Linked DNA regions of Homo sapiens: regions 1, 2, 3, 4 and 6 are each reported to be linked to region 5. Evidence: microRNA targets listed by miRTarBase, many of them from high-throughput screens and not tested one by one. Region 5 holds a microRNA gene; each other region holds the end of a gene's coding sequence. Distances are from middle to middle.

What was found. The annotated mature microRNA hsa-miR-6836-5p reads CGCAGGGCCCUGGCGCAGGCAU and lies in region 5 at 1,400-1,421, opposite strand. An mRNA with a match to its seed (bases 2 to 7 or 8) in the 3' UTR can be bound and repressed. Matches are read on the target gene's strand: a 7mer-m8 pairs with bases 2 to 8, a 7mer-A1 pairs with bases 2 to 7 and ends in A, and an 8mer does both.
Region 1: miRTarBase lists FAM131B as a target of hsa-miR-6836-5p. Seed matches in the 3' UTR shown: 7mer-m8 at 627-633 and 7mer-m8 at 1,995-2,001.
Region 2: miRTarBase lists MAFG as a target of hsa-miR-6836-5p. Seed matches in the 3' UTR shown: 7mer-A1 at 3,270-3,276, 7mer-m8 at 2,735-2,741 and 7mer-m8 at 595-601.
Region 3: miRTarBase lists LDLRAD4 as a target of hsa-miR-6836-5p. Seed matches in the 3' UTR shown: 7mer-m8 at 2,565-2,571.
Region 4: the mRNA of PHF21A is a reported target of hsa-miR-6836-5p. Seed matches in the 3' UTR shown: 7mer-A1 at 2,919-2,925 and 7mer-m8 at 1,352-1,358.
Region 6: miRTarBase lists VCL as a target of hsa-miR-6836-5p. Seed matches in the 3' UTR shown: 7mer-m8 at 2,945-2,951 and 7mer-A1 at 2,524-2,530.

The regions. Positions count from the first base shown.
Region 1 is chr7:143,353,077-143,357,161 of GRCh38, reverse strand. FAM131B (family with sequence similarity 131 member B) reads left to right here. Exons shown (of 7, transcript NM_001031690.3): 7 at 140-3,762. The coding sequence ends at 612. Among named protein-coding and RNA genes, the nearest start is that of FAM131B-AS1, 6.6 kb to the left of the region's middle.
Region 2 is chr17:81,919,208-81,923,292 of GRCh38, forward strand. MAFG (MAF bZIP transcription factor G) reads right to left here. Exons shown (of 3, transcript NM_002359.4): 2 at 3,943-4,007; 3 at 1-3,850. The coding sequence starts at 3,978. The coding sequence ends at 3,398. It overlaps MAFG-AS1 (MAFG antisense RNA 1), which reads left to right and starts at 3,692. Exons shown (of 3, transcript NR_186500.1): 1 at 3,692-4,025. RefSeq lists an enhancer at 3,702-4,085.
Region 3 is chr18:13,645,443-13,649,527 of GRCh38, forward strand. It overlaps LDLRAD4 (low density lipoprotein receptor class A domain containing 4), which reads left to right. Exons shown (of 7, transcript NM_001378100.1): 7 at 1-4,085. The coding sequence ends at 215. Among named protein-coding and RNA genes, the nearest start is that of MIR4526, 36 kb to the left of the region's middle. RefSeq lists an enhancer at 3,616-4,085.
Region 4 is chr11:45,930,388-45,934,466 of GRCh38, forward strand. It overlaps PHF21A (PHD finger protein 21A), which reads right to left. Exons shown (of 19, transcript NM_001352027.3): 19 at 1-3,838. The coding sequence ends at 3,581. Among named protein-coding and RNA genes, the nearest start is that of LARGE2, 9.8 kb to the left of the region's middle. RefSeq lists an enhancer at 111-200.
Region 5 is chr7:2,256,152-2,260,236 of GRCh38, forward strand. It overlaps MIR6836 (microRNA 6836), which reads right to left and starts at 1,426; the gene lies at 1,364-1,426. SNX8 (sorting nexin 8) reads right to left here. Exons shown (of 11, transcript NM_013321.4): 8 at 1,584-1,652; 9 at 1,214-1,363; 10 at 723-872. RefSeq lists enhancers at 1,761-2,540, 2,541-3,320, 2,641-2,730, 3,241-3,310.
Region 6 is chr10:74,117,873-74,121,953 of GRCh38, reverse strand. It overlaps VCL (vinculin), which reads right to left. Exons shown (of 22, transcript NM_014000.3): 22 at 1,785-3,931. The coding sequence ends at 3,785. It overlaps AP3M1 (adaptor related protein complex 3 subunit mu 1), which reads left to right. Exons shown (of 9, transcript NM_012095.6): 9 at 1-1,699. Among named protein-coding and RNA genes, the nearest start is that of AP3M1, 31 kb to the left of the region's middle.

The DNA.
Region 1 (4,085 bases), 140 Mb from region 5:
TCCTCCCTACTCACTGTGCACTCTGTGTCTTACTGCCAGTTCTCTGTGCTGTCTCTTAGCTGTCTCTTGTGCTGTCTGTGCTGTCATTCCTGCCCTTGACATTCTGTGGCCCCACTGACCTCCATGATTCTTTTTCCAGATGCCCTGGCTCAAGCACCCATGGATGGATGGCCTCACTCTTACGTGTCCCAGGGTATGTACTGTCTGGGGTCGTCAGATGCCTGGGAAGCCAGCGATCAGTCCCTCATTGCCTCTCCGGCCACAGGATCCTATCTTGGGCCTGCATTTGATGACTCACAACCCAGCTTGCATGAAATGGGACCTTCCCAACCAGCTTCAGGATACTCTGCTCTGGAGCCTCCACCTTTGCTGGGGGGAGACACTGACTGGGCTCCGGGGGTAGGCGCAGTGGACCTGGCAAGGGGCCCTGCTGAGGAGGAGAAGAGGCCATTGGCACCTGAGGAGGAAGAGGATGCGGGATGCCGGGACCTGGAGTCACTTTCCCCACGAGAAGACCCTGAGATGTCTACCGCTCTCAGCCGGAAGGTGTCTGACGTCACATCCTCAGGTGTGCAGTCCTTTGATGAGGAGGAAGGCGAGGCCAACAACTAGTTTCCTCCCCCAATGCCCTGCCTTCCACTCCCACCTGAGGGCCATGGCTGTGACCCATACCCTCCCTCCCCCCAGCAGTACAGCTGAAACTGGGCAGACAACATTGGGGAACCCAGGAGCTTCCAGTCCTCTCCTGGAAATGGAGGACCAGGATGGGATTTTATCCAGGCTTACACTCTAGAAACCCACAGGCCTGGGAACTGAGACCTGGGCAACTAGATGGCCGTGAGCTTGGTGTGGCTGTGGAGAAGGACCTGGGCTGTGGGCTTCTGGGTCTGTGCCGACAAAGCCTCCAGTGTGTGCACCCTGAGGACGGGGGCAGCGCAGCTGTGCTCAAGACTGGATCTCAGTTCTTCACGCCCCGATTTCGTCTTCCAGGAGCTGTAACTCTGCTGTCTGAATGCCTCCTTTCTCCATTTCACTCTTGCTTTTCCCAACTCTGTTTTCTCTGGCTGTGGCCCCAGCTCATCCCTACTGAGAGAACAGACCTCAGGGGCTGTTGGACATGGCTGGACAGGCGCAGGGGAGGCTGCCTGAAGGGCACGTCCATGGGGAGGGTGGAGAGGCTGCCTCAGCAGGTCATTTGGCTTCTGAGATCAGGAGTCGAGGAGGAGGTGGATGTGGCAGCTGAGATCTACAGGGGGCACGGATGTGGTTCTTTCTATCAAGGCCTGCCCGGAGACAAGAGAGTCACTGAGGAGACTAAGAACAAACACAGCCCCTTGCTCTGGGATCTTTAATATCCCATGGCTAAAAGGAAGATCCTAAGGATCTGGGAAAAGACCCAGCCAGGGCTGGCTGCTCCAGCTCTTGCTTCCCTTTCAGCTTTCTTCCATCCCTGCTCCGGGAGCCTGAGGAGGGTGTGGGGACACCCATCTTGGATACACCAACGCAGGATGCAGGTGTCGCCAACAGCAGGGGGAGCATGAGGGCTGTCTCCCCTTATTCACCCCTGTCCTCTGAAGCTGTTTACACTTTTCTCTTTGCCTTTTCTACATTTTTATAACTTCTTGGGCACTCAGGGTTGAGTGGAGTGGAGGGAGGAGTCCGGTGCTGTCACTCCCTCAGCCAGGCAGGGTTGCAGCTGAGGGCCAGGGTGGGCACTCGGCACTTTCTGCCCCTTCTTCAGCTCCTCCCAGGACTCCCAAACAGCCTCACAGCTGTCCTCCCTGCCTCCCCAGGCCTCCTACCAGAGGAAGAGAGGAAAATCAGCGGATTCTTCCTTCCAGGATGGTGTATGGTGAGGCACAAGCTTGCCCTCCCACACTTGGCATCCATGCTGGTGGGGACTGAGCAGCATATGCGCCCCAGCACTACCGTGAGAGCACAGGCAGAGGATGGGCGGAGCAAAGCAGCGGTGCTGTGGGGTTGGAGAGCACTTGGCCCTGCCACTGCCCAGGTAGCCCCTCCCCAGCCCTTGGCACAGGCAGAGTTCGGGTAGGAGAGAGAGGCCTAAGAGGCTCACTGCCCTATCTCCTTCTTTCCTCACGCCCTTCCAAGGCTCCGGCTCCCAGGCCTGTGTCCTACCCACACTCTGTCAGGAGTCCTACCACTTGCATCCTCTGCTGGAAGGGAGCACTGTTGTCCTCTCCTGGCCCTGGGCACAAACTTTGCCCTCACCCCCAGGCCCCAGAACTTATTATTTTGGAGTGAGAAGGTTGAGAGTTGGGGTGTTTCTGTCCATCTATGGTCCTGTCCCGCCATCAAGTTCATACTCTCTTACTCACACTTCTGGGATGCAAGCAGGGCAGGGGGTTCTGTGTCTTCCATGGAAGGGGGACAATGGTTATCCTGAGGTTGGTTTTTGGAGGAAACATGGGCGTAGGCAAGGTGAACCAAGGCAGGTGCAGTCACCTAACCGAATGCTGCCTGTACAGGGGAAGAGTCCTCTTGTGCTTGCTAACGTGTGCTGACTCCATGTCCCAGGACCTCATTTCCAGGAGCTCTGAGAGGTGGTCTAGCATGCCCGCCCTGGCAGCTATTCCCCACCCGTCTCCTGCTGCAGGCTCTGGGGTTTTGCATGTTCATGTGACCTTCCTTCCATGGGGTCCCTGGTTCCTCACCTTCTCCAATGTGTGCTATTCCCACATCACCTCTTCCTGTCGTCTCATCCTCTCAGTGCCCATATCATACCCCCAGACCACGGTGGACAGCTCACCTAGTGAGTGCGTTCATTCATTACAGTTCGTTTTTGCTCAGGCCCGGGGGAGTTAGGAAAGGTAGACCACAGCAGCTTTCGTTCCTCCTTCCCTTTCCCAAGGAAGCCAAATGGTCCCTGACAAAAGATGACTAAAGATCTGAAGGACTCTAGCAGGGTTCATACATGAACCTGCTTTCCCCAGGGTGCTGGCATATTGCTGCAGATGGAAGTCAGGTGGGGGTCTGTCTTCTGCAAGGAGCTCCTACTCGCTCTGAAGAGGGAGACTGAGGAGCTGGCCTGGGACCATCTTAGGACTCTTCTGGTGCTGGGGGCAGGGTGCATGGGGGTTGCTTATCGTCTATTTCAGGGGGTGGGGAGGGGCATGTGCAGGAAGAGGCTGTTTCGGGGTGGGAAAGGGTTGCTTTTCCTTTGGGGTTAAGGCTGTGCAGCACGTTTTACAGCAGTCCTGGAACAGGGCTGTTTTTATATTCTTGTGAATGAAACTGCTCTTGCTAAATGATTTTCTTTTTTTGGAGGGGGGGTGCACTTTCATTTTCAATTGACTTTATTAAATGAAAATCCAAATCTTCCACTCCTCCCCCTCCATTGTCCCCTCCCCCACCACACACCTTCCTTCTTGTCCTTGTGTTGAAGAGGGTATCTTGGGGAATGAGTTTATTATCTTCTCCACGACCTCACCTATACATCCCACACACCATCCTCCAGGTCTGGGAAATATCCATTTTTCTGGCCAGTCTTAGCATGTTTTCTTAATGTCACATTCCCACGCCAGGCCCAAGAGAGATTCTATGACATATATTATAGAGAGAATTCTATATCAATATATATAAATATTAGAGATTATGTACACAAGGGCATGGGCTCAAATGCCCACTGCCAGTCCCCCACCCAGGCTTCAGCATCTCTCTTGGCCTGGGGAAGTGGGAGGGATGTGATGCTGGAGAAGGCTACAGGCTGTGTTCAATGACACTAAACAGAATGTGGTGGCATCCTCTGACTGTGAGTGTCTTATTTGGGGGATGGAGGAGACTGGGAACAGGGGAGGCAAAGGAGGAGAATGTCGGAGCGGGGGCACAATGGTAGAATTAAGAACGGCATACGGGATGGCAGGCTGGGGAGAAAAACCTTGGGTACGGAGCAAGGGTTTGGGGATGCTCACAGCACCTGGCCTCTCTTTGTAGAGAAAGCACGCTAATGGAGTGCATAGCCAGGCTTCCTGCTGCTGATTTGGGGAGGGTGAAGATGTGACTCTCCCAAGTGCGGGGCAGCACTCAAGAGCCCTGCCATCTTGACGCTCAGCTCCTAACTCTCC
Region 2 (4,085 bases), not on the chromosome of region 5:
GCGGAAACGGTGCAGCAGGCTGCGGCTCCGACTTTCCAGATGTGGATGGGCGCTTTGGCCAAGTGGCCACTCCAGAGGGAGGCAGCAGGGACAACATGGGACCTGACCATCGTCCCAAAGCAGGCTGCAGCCGCTCAGGGCCGTGGGCCGGGCCCTGATCACCAGTCAGAAGTGTACACACATATCTGAAACATGCACCAAGAGCTGAGCCAGCAACACCAGTGCCACCCCGAGCAGCAGCCAGGGGCCTCACTCTCCTGGTGAGAGCTGACCTGTCCCTGCTGGGTATTCCTCTGAAATCTGAGCGTCCATGTTAGGATAAAAGAGGAGTTGGGGCAAAGTTAAGGTGGAAGGGAAGACATATATCATGGTTTACTTGGCGGACAAGTTTGAGAGACCTGGCCTTGGCCAAAGCCCTCGATTCGCTGTGTCAGAAAAACTGAGGTGAGAAGAGACCACCACCCTCTCCACCACCCTCTCAGTAGGAAAGCGGGATCAACAGAGATCAGAAGGACAGCACACTCACACCTGCACATGAACACACCATCTATGTCAGGAAATCCAGGGGAAGGGGAAGAGGGGTGGAGTGGCTCCGCAGGGCTGACCTGACAGGGGACAGGAACACTCCCCTAGACCCAGGGAAGTCGCCCCAAATCCAAAGCTCTTGAAAGGAGGTATGGCCTCGAAACTCCAGAAGCCTCTTCTGCCAACGCACCGAGGACCTGCACCTCCCATTCAGCACGCGTCGACCCTTACACCCTCCTCTTCCACACTCCCTTCGCCTCCAGGTCTGCAGCCTGGCAGAGGTGCTCAAAATGGATGGCCACCCACAGCCAGGACAAAAGTGGGGGCTGCACAAGGACAAGGAGGGCCTGTTTCTCCCCACTCCGAGGCAGATCATGACGTTTTCTTCATGGATACTTATGATATGATTCCAACTAACGCCTGGATTCTACTTAGACAAGATCAGACTGAGGGGAGGGGGATGAAGTCACTAAATGACAAGAGTCAACAGCCAATATTTCCATTTTCAGGCTGACGCAGGTAGACACAGGACTTGTCTCTGAACACCTCGAGCAAAGAAAAGCTCATTAACATGACAAGTGTTGATGGTGCCTCCCTGTTCCCATCCTGTGGGCACACCAGGCCAAACTATTGGATAAAAATCCCACCATCCATAGGGTTAAGCCCTGTTGGGCCACAGTTTTTCATCTTACCCACATCTGTGTGCTTTACAGAAGTCTGGGCCCCACAGAAAAGAAACCAGCAACCCGGTGAAAGGCCAGGGCTCACATGGCCAGACACAGGGCTGTAGCCTCTTGGAGGTGGGTAGGGGCACCCCCTCCCCATCATATGCCTACAAGGAGCCTCCTGAGCCCAGCCAGGAAGGGCAGCAGCCTCTGGCGAGGAACTGAGAGCAGGAGGCAGGCTGCGCCCCCACAGGGAGGCACCTCCAGCAGAAGCCAAGCAGCTGATCCCTGGAAGACACAGATCCCAAAGGGAGGCAGAAGGCAGGCCCGAAGCCAAGAGCTGCCAGCGTGGACCAGCGGAGAAGAGGGACAAGACCCGGCCCTGGAGACTGTAGCCCTTGTCTGCACTGGTGGAGACCCCCAAGGCTCTCAGAGTGAGGCAGGGACAAGGAAGAAAGGGCGGTGCCCGGTGGGCCCCCACCCACTCTGCCTGGAAGCACCACCCGCAGCATGGAAACACCTCAGGGATCAAGCGGGCGGCGAGACCTGCAGCCCACGGCGCGGGCAGCCTATAGGAACAAAGCTGAGGCCAGAGGAAGACGGCCAGGGAACGCTTGGCCATAGCCCTGTGGCCACCCACAGTGACTCCCTCATCCCTGTAATGCCACCACCCAAGGCCAGAGGTGGTGGGTGTGGAAGCAGCGTGGGGCGCCCCAAGGGACCCCAGTTTCACCTACCCCGCCACTAGATCAGCCCAAGCCCTAGACACAGATGTAGCCAAGGCTCAGTGGAGGGGGGCATGACAGAACCCCATGTCTCACCTCCTACGGACCAGGAGCTGGTGGTGGGCACAGATTCCTTGAGCTCTGACGCAGCAGGCGCCACTTGGCACCCCAGCCCAGGTCCAGCAAGCCAGCAGAAGCAAAAGCACAACTAAACCCAAAAAACGAACACGGGAAAACAGACACAAGAAGTGACACCCACAGGTCAAAGGTCACCAGAAGCACCAGCACTTTACCGCTGCACAAAACCTCACCAGGCACGGACGACACCACGGCACCGGCAAGAGACGGAAGCAGGAAGGGCAGAGGAGTAAGTCACTTTCGGTACAATTGCAAAAGATATCAAAGAGGACGGCCTTCTGGTCGGCTCACGGCTTGGCTTTTTTTTTTTTGTCTTTTTTTTAAACTAAGTTTTATAAATAATGTCTGATAACTCTGTGTATATAAAAACTAAACTCCAACAGCCACAAAGAGGTGTCCGTAAGTTTACAAGAAAGGGATTTTTTTTCTTTTTTTTTCTTTTTTTTTTAACTAGCAAAGTTTCTATTATACTTTCTTCCCTTTTCCATTCATATGGTCAAATGGTCTTCTTGCTTGTTTTTTTTCTAAAAGACAGTTTTATAAATACTCTGCAGCTCTTTTTTCTTTAACTTTTAAACATATAATTAATTTAATAACTTTGTAAAAGGAACTTCTCTCTTTTAAATAAAGGGCTATATAACCACACAAATAGGTCATGTAAACAGTGACACGGGACCCATCGCAGGGCACACTGGACCCACCCTCACGTTAAGCGCACAACCAGAGATTTGGTCTTGTTCAGTGCAACGGGTCAGGCCTGAGTGCACAGCCCCTGGGCCCAGCTGCACGCCCCCAGCACCACTGCGCCCAGGCTGGTGGTCCACCCATCAGGGCCTTCAAGCCCGCCCTACTCTCAGAGCAGAGCCCATCTCTTCATGCTGGGCTAAGCTGAGCTGCTCCCCTGGGGCTAAAGAGAGTGAATCCTTCCCAGCCCGCGAGCCTGTGGCCACTCGGGAGTGGAGGGAACACTGGGACCCTCACTGCTCGGGGACACGCGAGGCCCAGCGTGCCTGCTCCTTCTCTCTCCCGCAACTCTCTCTAGTCCGTTCCCACAGCACCAACTCTGGACTCCAAGCCTGCATGGCCCTGGTACAAAAGGGGTTGGGGCGACCCCACGTCACCGCCGAACTGACCAATCCCAACATACAAAACACACGACGACAATGACGAGATCAAAGGGGCTCAGCCCGGCGCCCCTGGGGTACAGGTTGTGCTTTGCAGGGAAGAGAGAAGGGTGGGGAAGAGAGGGAGGAAAGAGAAGAGAAGGAAACAGAGGGACAGGGCAGCCAAATTCGCCATGTGCCTAGTGGCCCCGCAAAGACCCGCCTGGGCAGACGCGCGTCCCTACGATCGGGCATCCGTCTTGGACTTTACTATTGTGATGACGCTGGTGGCGGCCACCTTGCCTGGGACGAGGGGCCCCAGGCCGGCGGCAAGGGGGCCCCGGGCTGGCGCCACGGGGCTGCGGGCCACCGTCCGGGCGAAGGTCTGCAGCGCCTCGTACTTGGAGCGCAGCGCGTCGAGCTCCAGCTTCATGCTGGCGTTCTCTGAGGCCAGCTTCTCCACCTCCTGCTGCAGCTCCGCCTTCTGCTTCTCCAGCTCCTCCTTCTGCGTCACCCGCTTCACGCGGCAGCTGGCAGCGTAGCCGCGGTTCTTGAGCGTGCGCCGGCGCTGCTTCAGCTGGACGATCTCCTCCTTGGACAGGCCCCGCAGGTGCTGGTTCAGCTCCCGCACCGACATGGTCACCAGCTCCTCATCCGTCAGGCTGGTGCCATTCTCACCCGGCTCCCGCTTCACCTGGGGCACAGTGCAGGTGGTCACAGGCCAAGCGGGCACGCCCACTGTGCCCCCCGACCCCAGCCCACAGGCTCCTGTCCCTGCCCACTCACCTTCAAGGCCTTGTTTCCTTTATTGGGGGTCGTCATAACCCGGGGGCACAGCGAGCAGGCGCTCTCTGCAAGACACGGAGCAGGTCAGTACCCTGGAGACCACCCTCGCCGCACCCCCCCCCCCCCGCCCCCGGCCCAGTTCA
Region 3 (4,085 bases), not on the chromosome of region 5:
GCATCAGTGCAAGCACCTGCAGCAGTAACGGGAGGATGGAGGGGCCACCCCCCACATACAGCGAGGTGATGGGCCACCACCCAGGCGCCTCTTTCCTCCATCACCAGCGCAGCAACGCACACAGGGGCAGCAGACTGCAGTTTCAGCAGAACAATGCAGAGAGCACAATAGTACCCATCAAAGGCAAAGATAGGAAGCCTGGGAACCTGGTCTGATTCCTTCCAACGTGCACTTCAGCTGGAGAAAGAAACCAAGAAGGGAAGCGGCCGCTGGGCCCCTCCTGCGCACAGTGTTGTTCAGTTTCACATGGTACAAATAAGTAAAACCAAATGAGCAAACACGGTCTTTGTTTCTGATTCCTTTTAGGGGAATTGCATGCAAACTAGACTGAAATGATACAAACTTCCATCTGGTCTGACCGCAAACAGTGTTTATTTGGGGACAGGGGTTGGGATGGGGGTGTGGGCAGGGGAAAACAGAGAACGGGATGCTTTGAAGATACCATGAAATAAAACCCACAGAGGTATTTGATGTATTTAATTGTGAAAGGAGACTTTGCAGATAAATGAGGCCAGAATGGCATGTTTTATAATTAACTGAATAAAGAAGGAAGCATTATTATATATTATTGTGGGGAAGAACCAGCCAGTTCGCTTTTTCTCCTAAGGTGTGGAACTTTTATTTTGTTTTAAAAATATGAATCAAAATTCCTGTGTTGTGTGCCAAGGTATAAAGTGGAGAAGTTAGATGAGTGCAAGGAGCTCCTTTGTGTTGTGATGATGTGTTTTAAAAGTTGCACTATCTTAATGTTGAAAATATTTACAAGGGAACTGTTTTACGTGAAGTTCTGTATGTTGTCTTTTCACCTGTGGATTGTAATCAGGCCCAAGGAATATCCTGGAGTGGTCCCCAGAAGCATCCAAGAAAAGATATTTGGGGACGTAGCCTAACATTTTACCAACTTACGTAAATCAAAAAAGTCATTATTGTTGCAGGAGTTTGCATCAAATAGCAGTGCATCGCTGAAGCTTTTGGAGACTTTTGGATGGAAGATAAGATAGGGAAGATTAAGTTCCAGCATTTCTGACTTGTTATTTTGAGTTACTCTGCTACTCTTAGGCTGCATAGTTTATGAGAAAATGAACACATGCATTTATGGATCCAGTATCATGCAGTGCTGCCCTCATCCTCCAGCAGTGCAATTTCTTCAGTAATTTAGATTTTTTTCACTATAGCATGAAATATATTCAAATACATACCTTATTTTATGCAATAAATTGTTTAAAATGCAAGGTGGTTATTCTGCATACTGTTGAAATATGTGACTCCTCAGTATATTCCCATTGCCTCTCCCCCTTTCCTCGACAGCTTAGTTCAGTTCTGCAGGGCTGCTCAGTTCACAGGAGGCTCCCAGCAGCCACCCCACATCCAGCCTACACAGAACTTCGTGTGGGAGTGGTGTGGGTGGTGGTTTCTTATGCTTTGGAAGCCCCTAGAAATAATGACGGAAGAATGCCATGTTGCTGATCGTGGTAATAAGCCATTGTGGGTTATTGTATGTCACTAGTATTAGCATAGCATTCTTAAAGGAATGCAGTGCTCAAAACCTACCCAAATTCCCGCAGGATTCTACCAAACCCTTCCCCAGGCCAGCTTTTGTACTGAAGGCAAGAACTGGACAGTCAGAGAACAGTGGAGGGGGCAAGTGACTGAAGAGCACCGGGTAAAAAGCACAACATGCAGTTAAAATGCAACTAGAAAACTAATTTTAAATATTGTTAGTTTTAATATTCCTGATATTTACAAATATTCATTCTTATATACAATGAAAAAAATAACTTTCTTCTGCAGATGTAAGCACTGGCTTTTATAAGAGCAGCAGCCAACACGTTTAGCAGACACTGCGCGTGGAGAAGGGCTTATCTGCAGTACACTCTGCCATGTGGAGGGTGGGCCTCTGTGGCCTCTTCACATAACAAGATGAGCTGGAATGATGATTCCATGACTCCCACCTATGCAGCCTTAAAGCCAAATCCGCGTGTGTGTGTTTGTGTCTGTCTGTGGGTCTCGAAGGTGATCCGTCGGTGCGGTGGCTCTGTGCTGTAACTGGAGAGACTGTTCCAAACCCCAAGAGTTGTCTGATCCTAGTCTGTTCCCTTCTGCTTCTTACCTCTGTAGATAGGTCACTGGTTTTTGTTTGTTTGTTTTGAGGATTGGAATTTCCATTACATTCATCCTTTGCACACAGTAACATCCACAGAACTAGTCCAACTCTTAAAAGGAGAGAGGAAAAACACAGGCACCAGTTGTCAGCTCATGCTTACAACCTGTGTGGAAGTATATACAGTTGAGAGTCACAGTGGAGGTTCTGAGACTGGATTCAGTCTTGTTCCAGTGACAGTTGGAAGGCCTCTGCTGGAGAGACACCAGCTCTCAGGGCAGAGATTGGCTTGGGGCCAGAAGGACCCTCCCCAACCCTGGAGACACCCTGAAGGTTCACTGGCTCTCCAGATTAGCCTCTCTTCCTCTGTCAGGCAAAGATGAGGAGCCCGTGTTCCCATCGGGCCCTGCTGGCAGGGACTTGCAGTGGATTCTTGGTCAGGTGTGCCCACAGATGCGGAGGCGAGGTGAGTGATTCCATCATTTCAGTTCTCACCTGCAGTTTTGGTGAAGCAGGAGATGCACCCCACAGCTCTAGCTCTCAAATGGCTTCACAGTCCTTACTTCTCTACCTGCCTCAAGAAGGGGCTCAGAGCAGAGACTTGTGAATTCCTTAGTAACTGTGAGTATATGAATGTGTTGCACATGTCCACAGTATTGGCGAGATAATTACATAATTCAGATACCTTTAATCATCTTTCAAGAAAGAGGCTCCTCCCATTCAACCACCCTAGAGAACTGCCTTTGTTAAATAGTTATTTAAAGACTCATACATATCAAACCATGACTTTGAAAGGTCTTCGAGGCTGGGGCTCTGTAATGAATTAGTTTAAAAGCCAAGGTCATAACATGAATTGATGGTCAATTTCCCTTCAGCAGAAGGAAAAGGTGATTTAGATCAGTAGCTCTTTTGAAGGTTGTGGCTGACCTGTTCATACCGTGTCGCCTCATGGCTAGTGTGGCGTTGAAAGAGTAGCGACTGGGAAGATACAACTTACACAGTGGGGCCTATTGTTCTTTCAAGAACCCTTTTTTTAGCTTATAGAACCCATGGGTCCAGTTTAGTAACGAGTGATTTAGGCAATCAATGATAGGTTTATAATCTTAGATTATTCCAGCAAAGTGTGGATTGCATTGTTAGGAAGAACATTTGGTGGGAATGAACACTCCTGGGCATACCGCTGACTTTTGTCCCTTGTTCCCGGTGTAGGAGACCCAAGGCATCTTGAATCCCATCTATAAGAACACAATCTTCCAGCATACGTTTGCTTTTTCAGAAACTCTAGCATTCTCTTTAAATACTGACGCAATCCTTAATGGAAAAGAGATTTCATGAAGCAAATTATGTATTTCAATAGTTCTTCTATTTTTAGTGTCCAAAATTTACTAATACAGAAGCTTGACAAGCATGTCCTCACCCTCCCCACCACATAAACACATGGACACACACCCAAGCCACAAGAAATCCCAAGAGAGCAGAAGCGAATTTTTAAAAGATTTATCGTGAGGACTGCATTTCCATTCACTAATTTTGGCTCAAACTTATGAGGCAGGAAATAGGGGCCAACAGTAAATGGGGGAGGCCTCCTGACACCAGCAGAGGAATTTTGTACCCAGGCGAGGACTTCTTGAACTTCTGCGTATCTCCGTTTGATCTCTTTCACCTTTATTTCATCTTCATAAGAATGAGAAAGGCTCAAAAGGAAGCACTTTTAGAAATCTTCTCTGACCTAGAAGAATCCATCCAAATCCCTGCCTTCCTCTCTGAACCAACAGTTCCCTTCTCTGACAGGGGCCATCCTCTATCTTCCATCCAGCGGCTCTTCTTTTTAGGAAGGCTCTGGTGCAGAGCACTTCAAATATGTCCTCAGGCCAGATACTGATTGCTAGTAGAGAGACACCCGGCACCCAGTCCGAAGCCCTCC
Region 4 (4,079 bases), not on the chromosome of region 5:
CCAGCTGGAGGCTGCCAGGGCGGCCCCACCAGGGACTGCCCCTAACTGCCTCCCTATGTCAGGTACAACCAGCAGGCTTACCCCAAAGGGCCTGATAAGGAAGGAAGAAATCAAAACCCCAGAGGAGCTCAGCACAGGTGAGACAAGACCCAGCAGGCTCCATGAAAGAAAAAGGACCCACAGGCAGCAAGAATGCAGAGGTGGAGATGACAGCAACATGGCCTCACTGTTACCAGGATGCAGCGCCTGGACAGGAGCTGGCAGGGGACTCCCAGTCATCACTGCCACCAGGGCGCAGCGCCTGATCAGGAGCTGGCAGGGGACTCCCAGTCAGGGCCCAGTGGGCAGCCGCTCCAGCTCTCTGAAGTGACTACAAAGCCAGCTGGTCTCAAAAGTGGCTGTCAGAGCAGCTAAATTCTGGGCCGTGGGGAAAGAGCAGCGGAGGGAAGGAGGAGGAAGCAAGTGGAGGTGGCTGGGGTGGGGCAGTGTCACGAGCGTATGTCTCAGGTGGTCACAGGCCCCCCCCCCTCCCCGCCCAGGTCTGAGGGGACAGTGAAGGACAGGGAGATTGGGTGCCAGGGGCCTCTTCTTTACAGTAAAGCAGTGTTTTGGAATTTGAGTGCAGAATGTAGGTTTGGGGGCTGGGTTGCATCTCGTACTCCATACTAGCTGACTCCCAAAACAGCTCACATCTGAATGTCAGGAAGAATCCACAGCCCAGCTGCAGGCGAGGTCAGAATGTACCCGACACTGCTGAGGGCGGCAGGCAAAGCCCTGGTCAATTCCTAGCCCCGTCCTCCGACCCAAGACTCCTAAGGCAGCTCCTCTCTGAGCAAAGGCCTCTAGTGATGATGGTTTCCCAACTTCTTTCAGGAAAAGGTAAGTTAGGTGTTGTGTGGCAACCCCCAGATGGGCCCAGACAAGTTGAGGGGAAGAGCTCTAGACAGGGCAGACAGCCTGCTGCTGGTCTCTGATCCTCTGCCAACGATTCCTCCAACTAGTCCAGGCATCTCCAAGGCTCCCTGACTAGACACAGCACCTTGGTTTCTGAATGAGAAAAGGGAACTCTTTCCCCCTCAGCCAATCAAGCAGCCAGGGCCTAACTCTGAGGCCTGTTCAGCCTAACTTAATTCCTTCTTCTGAGGCCCCTGGGAAGATGAAAGGCGATGGCTGATAGAGATGAGACACATTTTACTCTAAGAAGTGTCTCTTCTCTGTTGCATTTGCTTTCAGATCTGTCTTTGTCTCTCTGGGCCTAATTGGGTGGGAGAGAAGCTGATAGGATCGTTTCTACCTCTCCTAGACTCTGGCCATTCCCAGGGCCTGGAGTGGGCTTGGGGGAGATGCTCCAGCAGGGCCAGGGTACAGAGCCTCCACCGCCCTCCCATCGGCCAGGGGCACGCAAGGGGCAAAGGTCTCCAGCGAGAGCACAAATCTGACACAATTTACTTCTGACAAGGCAAGATGAGAGAATGGTCTGAGTCTTTCACAACCCTGGTTTTCTCAAGGAGAGGCCACAACCGGCCAAGCCGAGGCAAGCGCAGCAATTCTAGCCCAGGGTCACCCAGGAGGCTTGTGGGTGGGTGGAGTGGAGTAAATTTCTGGTGCCTGGAGCCAACAGGCAGAGAAAGGAGTGGGAGCTTCAGACCTCTCCCCAAAGGCAAGACAGAGCGAAGGCCACGCTGGGGCTCTGTCTCAGAGACGTACCCTCAAAACATGTCACTCCTCCTCTGTTCTAAGCACCAAGGGCTGATGCAGCCAGCCTGTACTCCCGCACCCTCCTGTCACGGCCAGGGTGCGTGCGCACCACAGAGCTCCGCTGGCCAGTTCCCTCGGAGGTGTCCCCCAGGCACTCATAATGCTGGTGGCTGAAAGACCAAAAGCAGCACCAAAGGAAGGGATCTTATTTAGGCACCAGCCTTTTGCTCTAGCAGAATCTGAGAAGACCACGGGTAGGGCCCTGATACCATCCACGCTTCCATTTGGGCTTCACAACAGGAGACAAGATCCCTGCACCAAGAAGAGAGCACGGTCTTTTCTGAGGAGAGAGAAGGGTGGGGAGCTCCGCCTCTGTCCTTCAAGGAGACTGGCCCACCAGTCTAGAGACACACACACGGCAAAATGTCATCGTGATCAGCAGGGTCTGTGCTAAAAAATTATAACTACACGGCATTTTCTCCAGTTCTGACACCTTTTTAATAGAAATCACTGTTTTTAGGAAACAAATAGCACTTTTGTAATTTTTTTTTACAATGTTTCTTACCTTGATCTTAATTTAAGTAACACTAGGAAGACCTCAATATCTTTTATTTTCCTTTTTAATTTAAAAAAAAGTTTTTTTTCCCCAGATACAAAGATTTTTGCCCTTGCATAAAAAAACAGTGCCCGAACGATGACACAAGGACTCACAAAGACTCACGGGACCTCACTGACACTATGATTCCTACTCTACCATGCAAGGTCTTGGCTACCCTTAATTGGACTGTCAGCCTGAAAAACAGCTTTTCTATTCCTTATTTTAGTTTTTGTTACCAAGAAAGTAAAATGAACAGTAAAATAAAACTTTCCTTAAAGAAAAAAAGAACAAAAACAAAAATTAAAGAAAGAGAAAAGAAACGTCTCCATTCAATTCACACACACCTGGGTCGCGTGCTGCTTCACTCAAGATCTTCTCTTCTTATAAATATAGAAAAGGGATGGAGCTTGTTTTCAAGTAAAATCACTGATCCACCTTTTTTTCCTTCCTGGACACACACATCCTTCTTCCCTGCCTTGGGCAAGGGCCAGTGGCCCGGGCTCTGCTTGTTCTTGGAGAGGAGACAGCGGGATAACCACGGAGATGCGCGACTCACCAAGCAGGGAAGGAAGGAGACTGGGCAGGCTTCAGGAGTGGTGGGGTTACCGCGCAGGGAGCAGAGTGCAGGGGAGAAGAACCTACTGGCTGTTCTTGGTGTCAGTCTCCCCTTGCACGAGGCCCCCGCCAGAGGTGATTAAATACTGCTTATTTGATACACTGTCCCACCCCCTGCTCCCTCCAGCCACTCCCCTTCCCTCTTCTGGGCACTGGGGTTGGTGAAATCTCAATTCCTTTTTTTGGTTTTATAGTAGCGAAAGTTTAGAAACAGGAAAGCCCACACACTCTTTGGACTTGTCTTCTCTACCTAAACAAACGGCTCGGCAAGTAAGGATCTGAAACCTGCTCTCCTCCCTCCGCCCGTCCCTGCTCCCCACCCAAGAAAACAGAAACAAACCCATCGTGGCTGTGGAGGCTGCTGCAGGCACACACTGGTGTATAATAGAGAGAGTAAATATATTATTTCACTTGGCATGGTGCTGGCAAAGAACCTCCAGCTGGCACTATTTCATGTAACATGGTCCAATCTTTGCATGTACACACAGAATAAGAAGGATCAATTGGCAAACTCTGGTGCCACCTGGCACAAGCATCTTCTCTCTCTCTGGAACCAAAGAACCAAAAGAATTCTGCACTTTCCAGAAATCCGGCTTTGCTTTTCTAGAGTCTTCAGTGTTCTGTTCTCCTTGCCGCCGGGATCCCGTGGCTTCTCCTAGAGGGGCTCTGTTATTTAGTCTCTTCCCCCTGGTTACAGTTCGCTGTGCAGCTCTGGGAGGAGGGGGAAGGGGCCGGCGTGGAGGTGGCGGCATTGGCAGGGGGGGTGCAGTCCGGGCCATTGGAGATGGCCCCCACAGTGGCCTCAGAGTCTACAGGTTTGGAGAGGTCGATGCCGTGGATGAGGCGAATCAGCTGTTTTACCTTCTCCAGGGAGCTGTGCATCTCCTTCTGCCGGGCCAGGATGGTGTTCTTCATTTCCATGCATTTCTGCAGCAAATGACAAGGGCAGTGGCACTGAGCCGCCTGGTTTCTAACAGGCCTGGCAGCCCCTAAGAGCAGAGCGCCTTCTCTCTGCCCAGGGAGAAGAAGCTCTGCTGGCTGCTGTGCAGCCCCTGGGCCTTGCTGTGTTCCTCAGTGGAGTGGGCGGCTACCACCTAAGGAACAGGGCGGGTGGAGTGGGTAGGCTGGGGGGTCCCAGGTCCCAGAGGCAACAGAGGGAGAAAGAGCA
Region 5 (4,085 bases):
AACACGGCGGCTGTCTACCGCCTCTCCAGCCCCACCACGGCCGCCTCCAGCCTGCCATTCCCAAAGTGCTGGACGGCACCCACGGCACCAAGCACCTCCCGGGGACAGTGTGGAATCTCGTGACCACCCCAGACACTCGGTGCCATTCCACACACACCACAGACCATGGCTTGAAAGCTACTTGCAGCTACTTAATAAACTTAATTTCAGCCGGGCACAAGGTGCTCGCCTGTAATCCCAGCGGTGCTGCAGTGAGCTGGCCACCAGAAATCAACGGAGGCCTGTCCCAGGACCTTGGGAGCGTTTCTTCTCCCAGGCTGAAGGAACCGCCATCTGCTCTGGAGGAAGCCGGCCAGGGCTCTCTGGAAGAACAGCCACCTGCGGCGCTCCGAAGCGCTAGAAACCTTCTCTCAGCCGCAGGGTGCGGGAGCTCTGCGGGCTTTACCTCCGACTTCTCAAATCCCTCCAGGAGGCAAACTCTCCCTGTCTGCTCCTCCCTCCGCCCCCCAGGAATCACAGGGACACCCTCACGATTCTGATTTTGGCTACACAGGAGACTAGAAGATCCGGGCGAGCACCGTGTTCCAAGGCCCATGCGGAGCCCAACTCCACTAAAGAACCTCTCTAGGGCGGCCGGCCACCGCGCTGCCGGGCTTGAAGGAAGGGCGGAGGGACAAAGAAAGGCCGTGGCCGAGACGGCGGCCGGAGCAGGGCGGACTCACCTCCTTGTGCCCTTGGATCTGAGAGTTGACGAAGGCGCGGAGGATGTGGGAGGTGAGGGGCAGGTAGACGTGGATGAGCTGCGTCTCCTGGTGCAGGCAGTACAGGGAGAAGTAGTTCCGCAGCTCCATCGTCTGAATCGCGTTCTCCTGCTGCGGAGCAAACAGCCGCCTTTCGCACCCGGCCCAGCCGGCGACGGGAGCACCAAGGCCCGAACACCAGCGTGCTCCCTGAGCCAGGGCGGCCCCTTCTCCTTCAGCCTTCACCAGGCATTTGGAAGGTGGCGAGGTAAGAGAGGGCCGGGGAGGGAGCACCGTGCAGGGAGCCGCATCGCTCTGGGCACGCGGGCCAGCTCCCTGCCTCCACTGCACCCCCAGCTCTGTTCCAGACACAAGGAGCCAACCCAGGGGAGCCCACCAGGACGGCTCCGGGTCCCACCATGGCCGGGAGGGGAAAGGCTCCCACGGGCCTGCTCGGCCGCCCCGCCACCCACCTCCACAATGCGGGACTCCAGCTGCTCCACGGACTCCGGCTCGCGGTTCTGCGCGGTGGCGCTCATCATCTGCCTCTTCATCAGGCTGTACTTGTGCAGGGCCCGCTGGTGCTTGTGCAACACGCCCTTCTCATGCCGCTCGCACAGGTCCTGCGGGGCCGGGGGAGGCATTCGCCCGCTGTCTGGATGCCTGCGCCAGGGCCCTGCGGAGCCGGCCGAGGGAAGCACCCCCGCCAGACGGAAGGCCCCGTCTTCCCCTGCAGCCCTGGCTTCTCAGCTCCTCTTCCGTCCCCCAGGAGTTAGACCCTTGAAGGATCCTAAGATCATTCCTGAAAGTTCTGCCCCCAGCCAAGGAGCAGCCAAGACTCACCTTATAGGACTGCAGCAGATCCAAGAAGAGGTTCAGCTTCTCCACCACGTCGTTCTCTTCCTGCTTACCCTGGAAGGCGAGGGGGAGCTCACCCACGCGGACGCACATAGGACCCGGTCCCTGCCCGGGAACTCAGACCCAAGCCTGGCCTGGGCCGGTTCCTTCCTCCCAGAGTCAGACGGGCTCCCCAGGACCACCAGCCAGGTCTGCAGGGGGCCCCCTTCCCCACCAGCCCACCCATTACCAGGCGGACACGCCTTCGAGCCCAGCAGTCTTTTTTTTTTTTTTTTTTTGAGTCGGAGTCTTCGCTCTGTCGCCCAGGCTGGAATGCAGTGGCACGATCTCGGCTCACTGCAAGCTCCGCCTCCCGGGTTCACGCCATTCTCCTGCCTCAGCCTCCCGAGTAGCTGGGACTACAGGCGCCCTCCACCATGCCCGGCTAATTTTTTGTATTTCTTTTTTTAGTAGAGACGGGGTTTCACCGTGTTAGCGAGGATGGTCTTGATCTCCAGACCTCGTGATCCGCCCGCCTCGGCCTCCCAAAGTGCTGGATTACAGGCGTGAGCCACCGCGCTGGGCCTGGCCCAGCAGTCTTGATGGGAACAAGGCCTGCGTTCCCGCGGGACAGCTGCCCGCCCTCCTGCTCATCAGCCCGGCCTGCCTTGCCTTTCTCAGGCCTTCGCAAAGCCGGCGACTCTCCCAACACATATGCTGGGAGAGCCAGATGCCCCAGACCCCCCGACCCCTAAGGCTCCATCAAGCACTGCAGAAAACCCGAGTTCCCATATAACGCTGTGAGCCGTGTGCAAAACGGGCACGCCCAGGAGGGGCACGGAGGAGAACAAGGGTGTTGTCTCCGCATCAGTAACAGGAGAGAGAAACGCAGGCCTAGGAAGGGGGCACAGGGAAGGGGGCGCAGGGTAGGTAGGAGAGACAGCAGCTGCAGGAAGGACGTGCTGCTGATCCAGGAAGAGAGGCGGCCGCCCCAGGCTGCACGCAGAAGCACCACACTCGGCGGTGGGGGCAGCGGTGGACACAGGCTCCTCTTCGGCCCTCACACAAGGCTCTGTGCGGGCAGCACAGCCACAGAGAGAGCCCAACAGGGCAGTGAGTGCACAGCAAACGGCGGGCAGCCCTGGAGTGGAACAGGGGCCCCATCACGGCAGAGGGATGCCCTGCTCCCAGAGTCACCACAGCACCTGGGGACACGAAGCAGCCCCCACGGGCGAACCCCACCCAGACGCTGCCTCGGCCTCCCCGGCTTACACCAGTAGCAGCCCTCGGTGGGGGCGCAGGCCAGGCACAGTGCACACGGCCCGAACACACGGTGCTCAGAGGCATCTGCGGTATGAAGAGTCGGTCCAAAGCCCTGGGCTCCAGCTGCCACTGAGGGGAGCATCCAAGCTCTGGAGACAGCAGGGGTCTGGGGAAGGCAGCGGAAGCGGCAGCCCATCCACCCCTGACCTGCACAGCTCACCACAGACCCCCCAGCCACAACCGCAACCAAGCCAGGCCGATGGCAGGTATCCTGGGGAAACCCCCGACACTGACGCCTTCAGTCACACCCGGGCCCTGAAGGGCTCCGGTCCCCACAGCTCACGCCCTCAGTCCCCACAGCTCACTGAGCACCTCGGGGAGACCAAGCTCCCTCCACGATTCCTCGGGCTCCACCCGTGGTAGGGGGTGAAAAGCTCACCCCACGCACTGCACGTCAAGCTCAGCAGGAGACGGGGCAGGCAGAAGTGGATGGAACGAGTTTTACGGGACACAGCCCTGGAATGGGAGCCAGGGGTGCCGCCCAGGCCCTGCTGCACCCCAGGGGACCCTAAGATACCCCTTCCACCCTCCAGACCTCAGGCCGACTGAACCCGGAGGCTCCCCGGCCACCAACCCCACACCCAAAGCAGCTGGGATTCCAGCCAGTAAAATGTGCCAGGAGAAGAGGTGTGTTAAGAGTTTCTAAAACTCTAGAGAGAAAACGCCAGCTGACCGCAGGTGCCCAGCTCCCACCTGACCAGGCAGGGGCTCAGGAGAATGTAGGCTTATTCCCTGGCCCAGCAGAAGAGGGGGAGTTCAGGGGTCCCTCTGTTCGTGTCATTTGTCACCAAGTCCCATCTGTGGTTCAGTGCTGCACAAGGCCCTAAACCAGGGGTGTCCAATGTTTTGGCTTCCCAGGGCCACATTGGAAGAAGAAGAATTGTCTTGAGCCACACATAAAATACGCTAACACTATGATAGCTGATGAACTAAAAAAAACAAAAAAGGAAAAAAGAAAGAGAGAGAGAAAGAAAGAGAGAGAGAGGAAGGAAGGAAGGTAGGTAGGTCTGTGTGTAAATCTCATAATGTTTTCAGAAAGTTTACAGATTTGGCTTTTTTTTTGAGACAGAGTCTTGCTCTGTTACCCAGGCTGGAGTGCAGTGGCATGATCTCAGCTCACTGCAACCTCCGCCTCCCAGGTTCAAGCGATTCTCTCCTGCCTCAGCCTCCCGAGTAGCTGAGATT
Region 6 (4,081 bases), not on the chromosome of region 5:
CTGTGCTATCTTCTCTTCTATCCAAGTAGAATGTACGCCAGGAGCTCCTTCCCTCTAGCAATTTCTACTAAAATGTCCAAGTAGAATGTTTCCTTTTACAATCAAATTACTGTATTTATTAATTTGCTAGAATCCAGTAAATCATTTTGGTAGCTCTGGCTGTGCTATCAATAAAAAGATGAAAGCAACAAGTTGATTTTTTTTAGGTCTACTATTGATTGAACATTCTCCAATGGGCAAGGCTCATTGTCAAAGCAGGGTGAACATGATCAGATTTTCTTCTGCATCATCACACAAGCTGCGAGTGTTGCTGCAAAGCACTTCTCAGTACTCCTTCCCTAACCTCAGTATGTTAATAGCCATTCATACTTGGCTTAAGCATCACCATTCTGGCCACAGTCTGAGAGATTAGTGATCAAAGCTCCCTTCCCTATCACTACCACCACCTACTGATAACAAAGATTTCTGAATACTTAGTAGTAGTAAAATATTTTTCAAGCACAGAGTTACAGCTAATCCTGGATCACTTGTTCTAAATTCATAAGGGAGTATATCAAGAGCAAATGAAGTAAATGATTCTTTCCTGCGTGTGGGAGTCACCATCATTTTATTCAAAGGGAGTTCCTGTGATAGGTTCATTCCTTAAGTGGTGCTACAGAAGGACCCTAGGAAAATGCTGATCTTGTCCTGAGAGGCAACTGATTTGAGAAAATGATTATACTACAGCAGGAAGGCAGCACCAGTGAACATATGGTAAATGGCAAAAACAAGACAGTTTTAGAAACTGCTAATTCAGTAGCAGCCTTGGCCTTTCCCTTAACTCAAGCAGGCTGGAATCTGTCTTTATAGTCGGCAACTTTCCAAGATAAAGCAGTGATAATAGCAGTTGGCAACACTAAATATCAATATCATCACCCTTTAATGACATGTTACCCCTTTCAGATCTAGAAAATCAGGGAAAAAGTGATGTCCCAACTCTACTCTAAAAACCTGCTCCTACTATTTTAGTCAGTGTTTCTTTAAGGAAGAAGAGGACTATGTCCCCAAAAGCTAACTCTGTTTTATAGCCCTGGTGGATCCCTGAAAACCCTATTTATTCTATACTGGGCTTTGGAATATGAAAAATGGACCTGTGTGGCCGGGCGTGGTGGATCACACCTGTAATCCCAGCACTTTGGGAGGTCAAGGTGGGCGGATCACTTGAGGTCAGGAGTTCGAGACCAGCCTGGCCAACATGGTGAAACTCCATCTCTACTAAAAATACAAAAATTAGCCAGGCATGGTGGCGCACACCTGTAATCCCAGCTACATGGGAGGCTGAGGCAGGAGAATTGCTTGAACCCGGGAGGCAGAGGTTGCAGTGAGCTGAGATTGCACCACTGCACTGCAGCCTGGGCAACAGAGCAAGTCTCTGTCTTGCAGCAGGGGGAAGGACCTGTGGTACTCCTACAAACTTAACAACTTTAGCTTTTCGGGGAACAGTGGTGGTCTCCACAGATAGCTAGAATCTTCTAAGATGAAAATAAACTGTTTCATCCAGCTGCTTTCTGCCTGTTAACCTTTGCCACTTCCATTCCTTCAAGTGTGTAATCCCCAGGGTTGTCTTGTATTACACACATCCTTGTTAAGTAAATATACCACTGTTGATTTCTTCTTCCAGTGCAACATTTGGATTAAATAAAAATCTTTAGTTTCCAGATCTTGAGGATTAGTTTCATTGACTATTCATCAAAACAAAGGAGAAACCTGACCTAAAAGTTCTTGCTAAAGTAACATATCCATCATTTAAAGCATTTTTTATACAAATGCATTTTATTGTTTTAAACAGAACAAAAGAAGAGGCAGAAAATATTTGCATATAACAAATCCTAGCTTATAAATGTAGTTTTTTAGCGGTGATGTCTCTAATCATCATTCAGGGATTTTTTTTTTTTTTTTTTTTAATTTGCTTCACTGTGTCTCGAGCACTGATATTGGAGAAAAGCACATCCGGCATAAAGTGTAAACCAGTGTCTCAAACCACTGGAAGAACCGGGAGAGCAAACATGATTTTTCTTATTTCCTCTAAGTAATCTTTCTTTAGTAAAACAACAAGTGATCTTTGGCATAGATTCATACTTTAAAGGCATTAATATTGCATTTATATCAGGCAAGCAACTATACAAATATGCTGAGGGCCTTGAAAATAATCATCCTCATTATAAAGGAAATAGTGAAAGCCTGAGTGTAAAGGACCAACTTAAGTTGTACACATTCGATGTTGGGAACTAACACACAGCGATGGGTGGGAAGGAAGGATGTTCAGGCAAGGTTCTTACTCCTTTACTCATCTGGTTCTGGCTTTGGGAAAAAATAAGGTTTCATGTGCTGGGAAATACTTAGCAGTAATAAGTACCAAAAAGGAAACACTGCCCTCTCATTTTGCCTAGTAGGAACTTACTGTGGTGATAAGAAATATGAAACCCATTACTCTCTTGAACCCCATACTTGGGAGTAGATGCAGAGAGCTTGGTTGTAGTTGGTTGCAGGGAGGTAGGAATTACAGGAGTAGTATTTCCCATTGATTCATCTTCAGCAGCACTAGAATTCTAGTCTGCAAATACCACTCTCCCTTAGGCAGGAAGTGTCCTTCAGACAGGGCTGCCTTGCCATTAAACACTCTTAGGGGACAAGCACTCCTCTTTCTTAGGACTGAATTTAAAAAGGATCTTTTAGAGTTACAGATGAACAAACACCTACATGTCTTTAAAATCTTGTTTAGAAAGGATGTGGAGGAAGGCTACAAAAACCAGGATAGGAGACATGTTTTGGTTAAAATTAAAATGCAGCATTTCAGCTCAAAATGAACAATTAAGAGCTAAGAATGAATGATAAGGCCTCAGCACAGACCTCTGCAGGCAGTGACTAAGCATGGAGTGCCGGGAGTGGCCCTGCTGGGAAGATGGCAGGGCCACACCCTGGCTACTCTGCCCTTCCAGTGGCAGAGAGCACCAGGACACAGTGTGTTCATGGGATGGCTACCTTGGCGGGCTGAGGCAGGATATGGGACGGGAAGTTTCCCTAGCACAGACATTGCTCAGGGGCATGGTAAAAGCAGAATCATATGATTCTGTGATTTCTTCCTGACAGTGAAGTACAGTTTTATATTGTGGGAAACTAGAAGGATTAAACTGAGGAAGGGCAGGAAATGAATCCAGGCCCCCATATGCTGGGGCTCCACAGAGGCCACCTTCCCCTGTAGCAGCAAAGCTCACTTCTGAAAAGGACCCAGGTAGCACAGCCCAGGGAAGGAAGGTATGGTTGGCAGCAACATGGAAAGCTCAAAACAATTTTGGGAGGCACAGCAATTTTCTTCTTAGTAACTGATTTGCCTGGGCCCTGGGTCTTGGGATTCTGGAAGAGTGAATGGGAGCCAAGGAAAGAGAAACAGAGGGAAGTGTCCCCTAGGGAACAAGGGCAGAGCAGAGTGTCTGGCTAGTGTTCACTTGGATTCTGAGCTTATGTGAAGTCCATGGGCTAGAAACCCAGTCTGCCTATTGGGATAGAGGGTGCACAAGTGTAACTGTGTTTGAGAATACAGGCTTTATACAGAAACACATTTCAAAGTGTCCATGAAAAAAGAGTATAAATGTCTTCTAATTTGAAGAGGCCCCCATTCCTTTCTGATGTGCCAGGCCAGGATGTGATTTTTCAGCTCCCAGCAACTCTGGGCAGCTCCTGGGACTCAGATCATTTTCCTTCTTTTTAGTAGAGGTTTCTGTGCCAGCCAGGCTCAGCCAGGTGCCTACTGGTACCAGGGAGTCTTTCTAACCCAGCGCAGTGTAAATCCAGCATCTGTTCGAATTTTGATTGAAGCAGCTTCAGCTTCCCGCACAGTCTCCTTCACAGACTGCATGAGGTTCTGGGCATTGTGAACCAGCATCTCTGTGGCCTGCAAGGAAAAAGGTACTTTCCGTTACCCAGGGTCCCTGATGCAGGCCTGTCTCTAAAATAGGTTTCAGCCAGGAGTGGGATGCAGCTAACCCCACTGGTACCTGGCATCCCCCATATTTGCTTGCATCACTAGGGGTTTTCCCAGATC